Linked DNA regions of Homo sapiens. The protein of the gene in region 3 interacts with the protein of the main gene of each other region in a biochemical or structural test. Each region holds a gene or a part of one and is shown on either strand. Other genes may lie near its edges.

Region 1 (3,649 bases), on a different chromosome or scaffold from region 3:
CCACAACCTGGCAGGGGCTCAGACCTCCAGCAAGTAAGGGCCAGAGAGGCTGCTGATACCCTACAGTGCCCAGGACAGTCTCACCGAGACCCCCAGCCCCTGGCCATGAACGATCCAGTCCAGAACGTCAGCAGTGCCCAGGCTGAGAAATCTCATCCTAAAGCATGGCCGGTGGAAGAGGAGACTGCTGGACACTTCTGTGGCCAAGCGTATTTAAAAAATGCTACACACTGTGAACTCCTTTCCAAGATTCGTAATGCATATAAGTACTTTAACAGCTGTAAGTCCTACAGAAAATGAAACCGCACAACTGTGTTTAACCTAGCCCCTCTGAACATCGGTGTATAGAACACTATGACTGTGGCTGGACCGAACACTTTTTGGCATCCCCCAAAGCCAGTGTTCTAATGGTAGAAACGGATACCAATGATACAGAGACCATGGGTCACCACTGTGCTAAGAATGGAAAAATAAAATCCTGTTGTTGAGATGAGCTCCAGCAGTCTGTCAACACATCAAGGGCAAATCCAGTGTAAGCACCAGCCACACAGGCAGAGACTCAAGCCTGCCACAAGTGACAACCTCTTCTCTCCTTAGGTTAGAGAAGGCCCCTGCCTCCAGCCACTGGAATGAGATTCTGGGGATATAAAATCGGAAGCCAGATAGTGCTGACCAGAAAGGACAGAGATTTAGGTTTATCAAGGTCATTTAACACAGAAGTAGCTGCTAGTTTGGGGGAAACTGTAGTGGGCACTATCCTAGCCACAGATCACCTCTCTTCAGCAGTGGCCTAACAAACTACAGCCTCACTTTCCTGAGTCTGTTCCTACATATGTGATTCACCAATTCTAAAGCACGTGTGTTGGTGTAAGCGTATGGCCACAAGTCCTCTCTGGGTGTCGGCAGAGCCTCTGTGAGGGCATAGTGTCTGCTTAGGGATCTTGAACGTCCTTGCTGCGCCAACACAAAACAACACGTGCTACAATGAAATGCAACCCAGAGAACACGAAGTGGCGGCTTCTGCTGCAGTGGTTACGTGGTGACTGGCCAGTCCTCAGAAAGTTGATGGGAAGGATATGAGCCTCTGTAACTTCCCAGAAAAAGAAGAATGAAACCTGCCAAGTGCATCTACTAGACAGACAGCGAAAATACCAGCTCCTTCATATACCACCACTATAAACCACTGTCGCAACAGAAAAGGCCCTGCTCACCCTTGCACCTCCTTCCCAAATCTGCTGTCACATTTTCTCAAAGAGAAGCAGGGAAACAAAAATTAAAAAGGTTCAACGATCACACACTGCTACTTACACCCTTACATCACTTTCTGTTTGCTGATGCATTTGGGCGGTGCCGTGCCACTGACACAAGATCTTAGTCTACACTACCCCACTAACCCACAAGCCCTACTTGAACCAATTTCACAGAATAAAACCATAGCAAGGAGGAGCAAGGTATTTTGCATGAAACGACAGAAGGCAATGACAGAGACTGACTTGTGCCACAGTAGTCTGTGTCCTTATGAGGTTGCTCTACAGTTTACACTTCTTTCCTTTTTTGAAATTAACATAGGATATGCTTGCAGTCACAACGAAACACAAACAGGAGCTGTACGTCCATATCTGAATATACAGCACTACACACACAGCACATACACAGATAGATACACGTAATATTTAACACAAAATTCAAAGCCAGTTTGAAATTATCCTCAGATCCACAATAAAATATAAATTTAAATTGTGTTTTACCTGATAGATAAAGCCACTCATCCTAGGACTGGCAGACAACATTAGCAAAACATTTGGGAAGAGTAGAAGATATCTTTCATTCTTTTCCTAATACAAAAAAAGAAATCCAAAACATTTCTTAAAAAACATCTACTTAACAAATGTGAGCACAAATACTTCACTTATTTATACTAGGCCCTATGAAACATTACATGATATTTCTCGTTTAGGTATTTCTATCAAGTTTTATCAGGTAAATTAAATGGAAACAATTATGATAAATTCTGTATTAAGTCTTAACATATGATTATGAGAGAGCTTTAACATATAGGTAAAGAGAAGGACTTCCAAATTCTTCAAAAAACAAAAGGTAAGAAAGTAAACGGACTGATTAAAAGATCCTGGACTCACAATTAGCCTGTGTAACATCTTGAAACTATATTTGGTTAAAGAGTTCAGCTCTGTGATTAACTATTTTCAGGTAAGCTAAAATTTTCTTTTTCTGGTTCAGAGAAAAAGGAGAGAACCTATAAATTTTAATGGGGTCAGGGGGAACAGGTGGAGTCTTTAAGCTAAAGAAAGGATAAAATGTTAAAATCAATTTTGGTCTACTAGTAATTCCTGGCACTTCCCAAACCTCCCAAATGTCGACTCAGTGTTGTTTTCATCCACCCCATAAACATCACCTGGTTTACATCAGACTTAAAAGTATTACTTATGTATTAAAAATCATTTGCTTCAGTAAGATAAAAGCCAAAGAGACCATAAGTGAAAGAAAAAAGTTCCTAAGAATCCAAAAAGAGACAAAAAAATGCCACAGTCCTTTTCACATGTTGACATTTAAACTACGGCCCAAAAAAGTGAAATCAGTCCTAGGAATTAGTTTCCCCAAGTATATTCCTCAGAACATTAGGCTTATGCAAAGCACCTTGAGAAAAGAGTCTTCCGTACTTTAAAGAAGTCACTGAGAACGACTTGCTATATTCCCCTCTTGAAGAATCACAACATACATTGGGAACATTCACAGCCAAGTCTCTGAGGAGCTCTATCATAAAGAATCTTTTCCACTAATTACGTTCAGTCGTGATCAGAACCACTCTGAAGCATTTTGGAGTAACACCCACCAGTGCTGTATAGATCTAATATTATAAAGAACACACTTTGGGAAATGTTTCCACAGATTAAAGTTTAAAAGAGCATGACTCAAAAAGAAACTTCTTCTGAAAAGATGTGAAGTTTTTATAATCATGGTTTCTTATGGTACCCAAACTACAAGACTATGTAGAAGGGGTGATATTTTACAGGTGGAAAGGAAAACACACTATATAAGTTTGAAGTTTTAGTTTTCTTATTCTCCTTGGAGTCTTGTGTTCAAAAATGAGTCATTTCGCATGTTTTGATCATGTTATTTTTGCAAAGGTAGAATAAAATTCAGAAAGAGGTGCCTGTTCAGTGACCCATTGAATGTATGTCAATGTGAATCATGAAACAAACTGCTCGATTTTCACTGTGTGGGTGGGTATGTCCCAAAAATCTGGGTTGATCTCTCACTTAAACCAAACCTGTAAGAAAACTGTGACTCCTGTAAGCATATGTCAGCTAGCATACTTTCACAGGAAAGTATAATGACCCGAAAGCATTGAGAGCAGCAGGTCCCTGTGAGAGTGAGCCTTGGTACAAAGTTGCTGGCCAGATAAGCGCATACAGCTCCATGCGGATGTGTGCACAGGACTCCTGCAAGTCTTTCTGCACACTATCTATCCTTCAGTTCACGTGGGCTTCGGGCCACACTGACTTCAGCTGGATCAAACTGATCAACAAGTCCACACTCAGCTCTAAGCCTCTCTAACATGCCATAAGCCTCTCTCCTGTGTCAAGAATAAAAAGTAGCTCACAAATTATAAGATAGAGCTTCTATTAGA
Region 2 (3,649 bases), about 10 Mb from region 3:
ACTGGAGGAAGGAGATCCCCTGCCTGCTCCCCCAATTAATAACCCCAAATGAGGCCTCTGAGTTGGATCCAGACAGCACAATGAGGAAGACCCCTCTCTCCCCACTGCCTGCTCCTCGCCCCTCCAGATGTGGTCAGGGGCTCCTTACCCGGCACACAAAGCACTCAGGATGCCACAGCGTGTTGAGGGCTGAGATATAGTTCTCCAGGATGGCCCGGGCGCAGCCGCCACACTTGGGTGCGAACATGTCGAAGTAGTCCTTGCGACAGTAGGCCTTGCCGTCCTTCTCGTGGAACCCTGGGGAGCGGGGGTTTTGGAGGCACAGTTCATTCCGGCTTCCAGAAGTGGAGCCACTCTGACTCCAACCTCAGCAGCGTCTCCCACCCCCACCTCCCCGGCCCTCCTAAGAGGCGGTGGGTCAGTCCGCCGGTCCAGCCCGTACCTTCGGGACCAAAGAAGGCTCCACACTGTGCACAGAAGAAGTGTTCAGGGTGCCACGTCCGGTCAAGGGCTGTCACCACTTTCTGTGAAAGCAAAATGTGGGATCAAGGCTGAGCTCTGGGCAGATCTCACAACTGAGACGCCCAGCAAGGCCGTCCTTCCACCCGCAGCTCATAGCCATAGACAGAGCAAAACACTCCCAAGATGGGGGTCTCTCCTAATTGTGCTGTGAATGCCTCTAAGAATTCAGAGTTACTCAGGATGGGACAAGCCAGACACATACCCTCTCCTCTACTCCTCACCCCAAGTAGAGGGCACAAGTTCTATGACTCCCATTTTATAAGTGAAGAAACATAGGCTCAGAGAGGCCAGGCATTTCCTAAGTTCACAGAGAGGGAGAGTGAGGCCGCTGGCATCCAACTCCATTTATCTCCTCAGGGCTCCTGAGTCCTGGGAGTCTCCACAGAAAGGAATCGAGATGGGAGGTGAAGGGAGGTGGGGCTGCCCGATGCACATCGGGACAGGCTGTGGTTCAGGTGTGGCTGTGAATCCGGCCCCACTGTTCCCTAGCCCTGTGAGCCTCGGGCATGTGACCTCTCTGAGCCTCCCACGGCACCCCCTGCATCCTCAGAGGGCTGCGGTGAAGCTGGAATGAGCGGAAGCGGGCGCGGTGCCGGATGAGGAACTCACATCCAGGATGGGGCCGTTGCAGTAGTAGCAGCGCGGGGAGAAGAGGTTGTGGTAGTCCTTTTCACAGTAGGGCTGTCCATCCCGCTCGAAGAAGTTCCGGGATCCGATCTCCTCCTGGCAGTGGGTGCAGACGAAGTGCTCGGGGTGCCACGTCTTCCCCATGGCGGTCACAACCTGAGGAGGAGATGGAATGCGGTCCAGGGCCAAGGCCAGCCCCGGAGCACCCCCACCCCTGCAGGAGTCCACTGGCCACACCCCTGCCCACTCCCCCTCATCACCTGCCCGGCGATGGGCTTCTTGCAGGCCCCGCAGACTCCTTTGGCGACTGTGGCGACCCCCAGCTTGTTCAGGTCAGACTGCAGGCTCCCCAGCATGCTGTCCAGCTGGCTCCCGGGCTTCGGGGGCCCCCCAGGGGGTGAGCTGCTCCCTGTCTTCCCCTGGGCCATGAACTGTGGACACGGAGGGGGCTGGTCAGGACTCCTGAGGCTCGGGGTACGGTGTCTGGCAGCACAGGGATGGGGGTACTTTTCTCCCTCCTGGACAGATGAGCTGATGGAGACAAGAAGTACAACCTCCTCCAGGGGCCAGGAGCCCTAAAGTGGGAGTGACGTCAGCAGGACTCCTGGTGGTCGGAGGGGCCCACCAGGGTCGGAAAGGCTGAGGGCACCCAGCAGGCATGGCCAAGCCCAGGGAGAGCACGACACGCAGGACACCCAGCCCAGCCTTGGCACTGACCCCTCCCTCGTCCTGCCCTCCGGGGCTGCTCCGCCCGCCGTCCCGAGGCCAGCCGGCCGCCCAGCACCGCTCCCCATCCGCTCTTTGCTCCAGGCCCTGGATCTTAGATAGGGGAAGAGATGAGGGTAAGAAATCTTTTTTAAAAATTAAGAAAGAATACAAGACCTTGTCACTGGACTAAAAGGGAATCTAGGATGAGATCTGAGGGTTTCTCCCCCACCGGCAGGACCAAAATTGGGGGAAAAAATCTGGAGAAAAAGAGCCCTGAGAGAGAGGCCTAGGGAGAAAGGAAGAAGGACAGGGAGGGGAGTCGACCAAAGGCAGAGGAAATGGCAAGGGGAGGTGGCCGGGCTCAGTGATGAGGCCTCACCGGGCGCTGGGCCTGGGGGCTGGAAGGGAGGAGACAGGTTTCTGGTCTCCCTTCTGGAGTGGCTTCTTTCCTCGATGGGAGCCCGGGGCAGTACTGAGGACCAGTCGAGGAAGGAGCAGACATGGGTGGACCCACAGAAAAGCAAGAGGGCAGCGGACCTTCTGAGTGGGGGAAGACCGGGGTCAAGGTTTACGGCAGGACTGTGGTTACTGTGCTGGGGCTTGTAGATGGAGGGATGGAGGGTATCTGTGTATGTGTGTGTGCACGTGTGTGTGTGCAGAGTGGGGGATGGCTCAGGCATTAGGACAGGGGACAGAAAGGGAGGGGCTCCTTTAAGGCCTGCCTGCATCGGGGGGAAGAGCGGGTCCTCATCAGTCTGGCAGCCCACGGACCTCATGGTGTGGGGTGCAGGAATGGGAAGGGCAGGGCCCTGCACCCCCTCATCATGGGGCTCTTCCCCTGCACTCTGGACCCCAGAAGAACCACAGGTATAAGCTGAGGGCCCCAGGGGGGAGGAGGCGAGCAGGCTGGGCAGGGGAGAAGAGCTGCTGGCCGCGGCGTCTGTGCGATGCTGGAGCAAAGGGACAGAAGGAGAAGCCAGGACAGAGATGGTTCTTCTCAGGGGAATGGGAGAGCCAGGAGGGAAGACAACCTGGGGAGAAGAAAGGAGGGAGAGCGATGAGGAAGAAATCGCCAGCTCAGCCCACAGGGGTGGCGGGACCTCCCCAGGCTCCCCCTGGGCCTTCCCACTCTGCACCAAGAGTGGGGCCAGTCTTCCAAAGTCACAGGAGGCAAGAAACCCCCACCCTCTCCCCAGATCTCCCCTCCGGCCAGCACTGGGGCCAGGGAAGAACCCGGACCCCAGGTGCTTGGCTCTGGCCCAGCCCCAGCCATGGGCATCTCCTCGCCACCTTCTCTACGAGCTGCCCCCCGGCCCGCTTCCCACGTGGCTGCACAGTGATGATGACGCCCTCGGTCAGCCAGTCCTGGGCAGAGGGCCCCGCCGCCTCCGCCGGCTCCTCTGCCTCAGGCTGGATGCCCAGCCGCCCCTGCAGCTCCGCGATGAGCTGTTCCTGGGATGGGGTCCTGCTCAAGGTGGCAGGGTCCAGCCGGCGGCGAGGGGAGGGCTCCCGGGACATGGGGTGTGCGTGGCCAGACTCCCAGCTCCTCCTGATCACAGATCGGATCTAGGGGGAGGGGGAGGGGAGGCTGTCACCGTCCCACTCCCAGCTTGCACAACGCTGCTCAGGCCACACTCAGATGCCTCAGGAGAGGGAGCACAAAAGAAAACCACCAAAGAACCAAGCGGAGGTGGGTGGAGGCACGGGGAGGGGGCAGATTGGACCGGTGGAGGTGGGTAGAGGCAAGGGGAGGGGGCAGATCGGACTGGCTCCAGAAGCACAGGCTGCGAGC
Region 3 (3,649 bases):
TGCCTGTAAAGGTGGTCCCTTACCCACAGCCACCTTCCTCCTCTTACCTTACATTACCCTTCCATTAAAAAAGAGATGGAGCCAGAACTGGGACGTGGATTTCAAAGCCTATGCCCTTTCCACGGCTTTCCCAGGTTGTGGTCATGTACCACTCTTTATGCATGAAAGTATTTTTTAATTGACAGTGCCTTTGGGAGCAGGGGCTGTGCCAGCTAAGTCCTTAGGACCCTTTCATTGACTTACCCAAACGCTGTGTATGGAGGAGGTGCTTAATACTTACTGCCTGACTACTCTAAAAGAGGCTTACCTGAATCATGCACTGCTATTGAGACCATAAATTATACACCAGTAGGTGAGGTTTAACCAACCCGTACAAGTGAACAGCTTTAGGTTAACAGCTGCTTGCATAGCTCCAATGCCACAAGGTGTTACAATTCTGATTCAAGATGCAGGGACTTGTAAACCTTGGTTTGTCAGCACTTGTGGTGCTGACATAAAATGTGTCACAGGTTAAAAAAAAAAAAAAAGGCATGACATTTTAGTACTTCAGCGAGTCCACATACAGCAGTTTCAATCTGACAACTGTAGCCCTGAACAAATTGAACAAATTTGGCCTATTATAATATCTAACCAGCAGCCAGCTAATTTTCTCGTTGTTTAAAAAAACAGTTTGCTCAGAATAAATGCTGTAGGGTGATTTGCAAACTTTGTTAAATATGACGTGAACATGAGCAGTATGGGGTTAGAGAAAGGGAGGCGCCCTCGATGGGTGAGCGTGCATGTGGACGAGTGTGAGCCTGATGCACTGTGAGAAACCAGGAGGAAGTGCTGCCTCATGCAGGACGGAAGGGCAGTTAGCAGGGACAGGAGGGCCAGAGCCCAAGCACAAAGCGCCCAGGAGCACGGCCCCTCCTCCAGAGAGCAGACCATTCAGAATGTACTTAACCCTTCGGGCGCTTTCGTCCCTCGACCAGGAAAGTGTGGAGGGGAAGGAAGGCAGAGATGAAGAGGAGGTCACAAGTGCACTCCTCCCGATCTGGAATGGGAAAGAGAAACACACTCGGGAAAATACAAAACAAACCAAAAACCTACCACCTTGCCAGCTTCAGTAAAAGAATCCTGGAACACCACACATTATGTGACGTGAGTGCTGCAATCTCAGTGGCCACCAGTGACAGGACCCCAGAGATGCTTAAACCCTTGGTGAAACACCTCCTGGAAATTACTCTGAATTTAATAAGGCTGCTTTTCCATAAGGGAAATACCTAACATAATTTGTCAAACTTGTCAATAATTTTTTAATGGATACTATGAAATGCATATTTGTTTTTCAATCAGGACTGATGTGAAATGAGAAACTATAAAAATGATTCTAAGTTGCTATACACTATCAATCTAATTTTTAGTACAATTACAGTGCCTTCCTGATATATCTTTATATTCTAATTTTTTCTAAAATAAGAAAGTACACTGAAAAATAACAAAGTTGCTTTTCCTAAATTTTGTCTTCAGCTATACAAAAATAAGATTCTTAACTTAGGGTGGGCATGGTAGCTCACACCTGTAATCCTAGCACTTTGGGAGGCTGAGGCGGGCGGATTGCCTGAGCTCAGGAGTTTGAGACCAGCCTGGGCAACATGATGAAACCCCGTCTCTACTAAAACAAAAAAATTAGCCAGGCACAGGACCATGTGCCTGTAGTCCCAGCTACTCAGGAGGCTGAGGCAGGAGAACTGCTTGAACCCAGGAGGTAAAGGTTGCAGTGAGCTGAGATCACACCACTGCACTCCAGCCTGGGTGACAGAGCGAGACTCCATCTCAAAAAAAAAAGATTCTTAACTTAGTTCAGTGGCATTCCCATTACATCAAATGTATCAAATCAATTGCCTTAGAATGTTAAACCCAAATATCTTAAAAAGAATCTGAGATAACAGACTCCCAATTATAGTAAAACAATATTGTAATTTTACCACACTGAAAATTGACAAAATTAAACTAGGGTTTAATTCACGAAACCATGTCCTTGCTTTGCATCTACCTTGAGAATTTTTTTGGAAACTCCCATAAAATTTGACTGAAGAAATAATAAACTTTGACACTCAAAAAGACAAATACTACTCTCTGAAAAAGCATCCCATGAAAAAGTTTAAATGTAACATCTTGGCAAAACACATATTTTTATAATAAAGTAATCCAGAAGAAATATATTTGAAAACCTTATAACACAGTATGTATCCCAATGCAAAATAAGATTGTAAGAACCCTGCTGCAGAACACAATCTCTGGAATTCAGCGCTTCTAAGACTGATGTAGAGTATTACATTTCCTTTTCTGAGACAACAAAGCCACACTTCCCCCACCACGGTGGGAGGAGCAGGATGCAGAAGCGAACCTAGCAGGCACACTGAGCACACATGGAGAGGCTGCGGAAGCCTGGAGCCTTCCAGCCTTGCCTGGGTACCTGGGCCACAGACTCAAGGCCACCTGCTTGAGGAGGAGCTGAAAAGACGTCTTGGATTCTAAGGGCTCCAGTACTTAAAGGGGCACATCCCTGTCTAGCTCCAAGAAGGCAACACTTCCTTCTGAGAGTGAACTTTATGATTTATTTTTGTTTTTGGAAGTAGAGAAGGAAGGAAGCTTTACCAAAAAAAGTTCCAACACTGGCTGGTTGAGAAATAATCATGGATGTGGGGGAGAAAAAAGCAGCAGTTCGGGCAAGAGCCAGAATCCCCAACTTGGTTAGGAAACCATCAGCCCATGGCCCTGTGTGCTTGTGGGAATATCGCAAGCATCTGTGGACATGTTAATACAGCAAACACAATGGTAACTCTCTTAGTCCAATTTGGCAAAGCAGAGCTGTGGGGACCTGTAGGTTCAGAAGAGGGAACAGAGTAGACAGGCTGCATAGAGTGAACAGCAGAAGCGCCAGTGGTGTTACTTACGTGCGCGGGGAAGGGCTGGAGTCTCATCCTGCTCTCTTCGGGGCGGCTCGCTTCTCCCATTGGGAGATATGGTTTCTGACCTGATCCGGTCTCGTACATGGACATGGGCCTACTGCCCCGGGCAGACGGACGTCTCTTTAAGGAAGAGTGGTTGGAAGTGTCTGTGTACTCAGAACCAGTTTGCACCTGATATACATTGGTTGTGGCCTGTTTCCTGAGGTTCGAATTTTCACTCTGGAGTGTTTGAAGCTGAAAGAAATGTTTGGCAGTGGGACTGTGTTTTTTTACAGCAAGCAGAAAAAGCAAACACCAAGTAAATGAATACAACTACCAGTTTTAAACAATAAGGACAGTAACAGCTAGCCGGGCTGAAAGTAAAAAGCCAATACAAACAAGGACCCTTTCTTCTGGATTGGGTGAAACACAATCAACTCCCTTCATCACGTAAGCAAATTAAATAGCTTCATTTCTGAATGTGGAAAAGTTGTGGTTTGGACTTCCTCAAAACAAAATGTCTAACCACTTTAAAATTTGTCATGGTGGGGCTGGGAAATGTTTGCAGGCAAGCTGTACACTGGATTATTACTAAGGCTGTTTCAAGCAAGAGTTCGAGATCATTAAAACATCATTTAGGTAACTTGCTTTTCAAATGAGCCCTGAGCAATTTGTAAAGGCCAAAAATGACAGCAGACACCATGGAAGCAGCA

What was found.
Region 1: the proteins of GIT2 (region 3) and ARHGEF7 form a complex in vitro, tested with the Homo sapiens proteins (one study listed by BioGRID).
Region 2: the proteins of GIT2 (region 3) and PXN form a complex in vitro, tested with the Homo sapiens proteins (one study listed by BioGRID).

Annotation. Positions count from the first base shown.
Region 1 is NC_000013.11:111,275,773-111,279,421, reverse strand, and holds part of ARHGEF7 (rho guanine nucleotide exchange factor 7), read right to left. Parts: intron 1,836-3,649; coding exon 1,749-1,835; intron 1-1,748. UniProt on the Homo sapiens protein: Acts as a RAC1 guanine nucleotide exchange factor (GEF) and can induce membrane ruffling. Functions in cell migration, attachment and cell spreading. Promotes targeting of RAC1 to focal adhesions. May function as a positive regulator of apoptosis.
Region 2 is NC_000012.12:120,213,694-120,217,342, forward strand, and holds part of PXN (paxillin), read right to left. Parts: intron 3,424-3,649; coding exon 3,148-3,423; intron 2,889-3,147; coding exon 2,580-2,888; coding exon of another isoform or gene 2,237-2,579; intron 1,969-2,236; coding exon 1,867-1,968; intron 1,725-1,866; coding exon of another isoform or gene 1,581-1,724; coding exon 1,410-1,580; intron 1,306-1,409; coding exon 1,132-1,305; intron 525-1,131; coding exon 443-524; intron 298-442; coding exon 149-297; intron 1-148. UniProt on the Homo sapiens protein: Cytoskeletal protein involved in actin-membrane attachment at sites of cell adhesion to the extracellular matrix (focal adhesion). Recruits other proteins such as TRIM15 to focal adhesion.
Region 3 is NC_000012.12:109,944,314-109,947,962, forward strand, and holds part of GIT2 (ARF GTPase-activating protein GIT2), read right to left. Parts: exon of another isoform or gene 3,192-3,649; coding exon 2,943-3,191; intron 1,037-2,942; coding exon 947-1,036; intron 1-946. UniProt on the Homo sapiens protein: GTPase-activating protein for ADP ribosylation factor family members, including ARF1.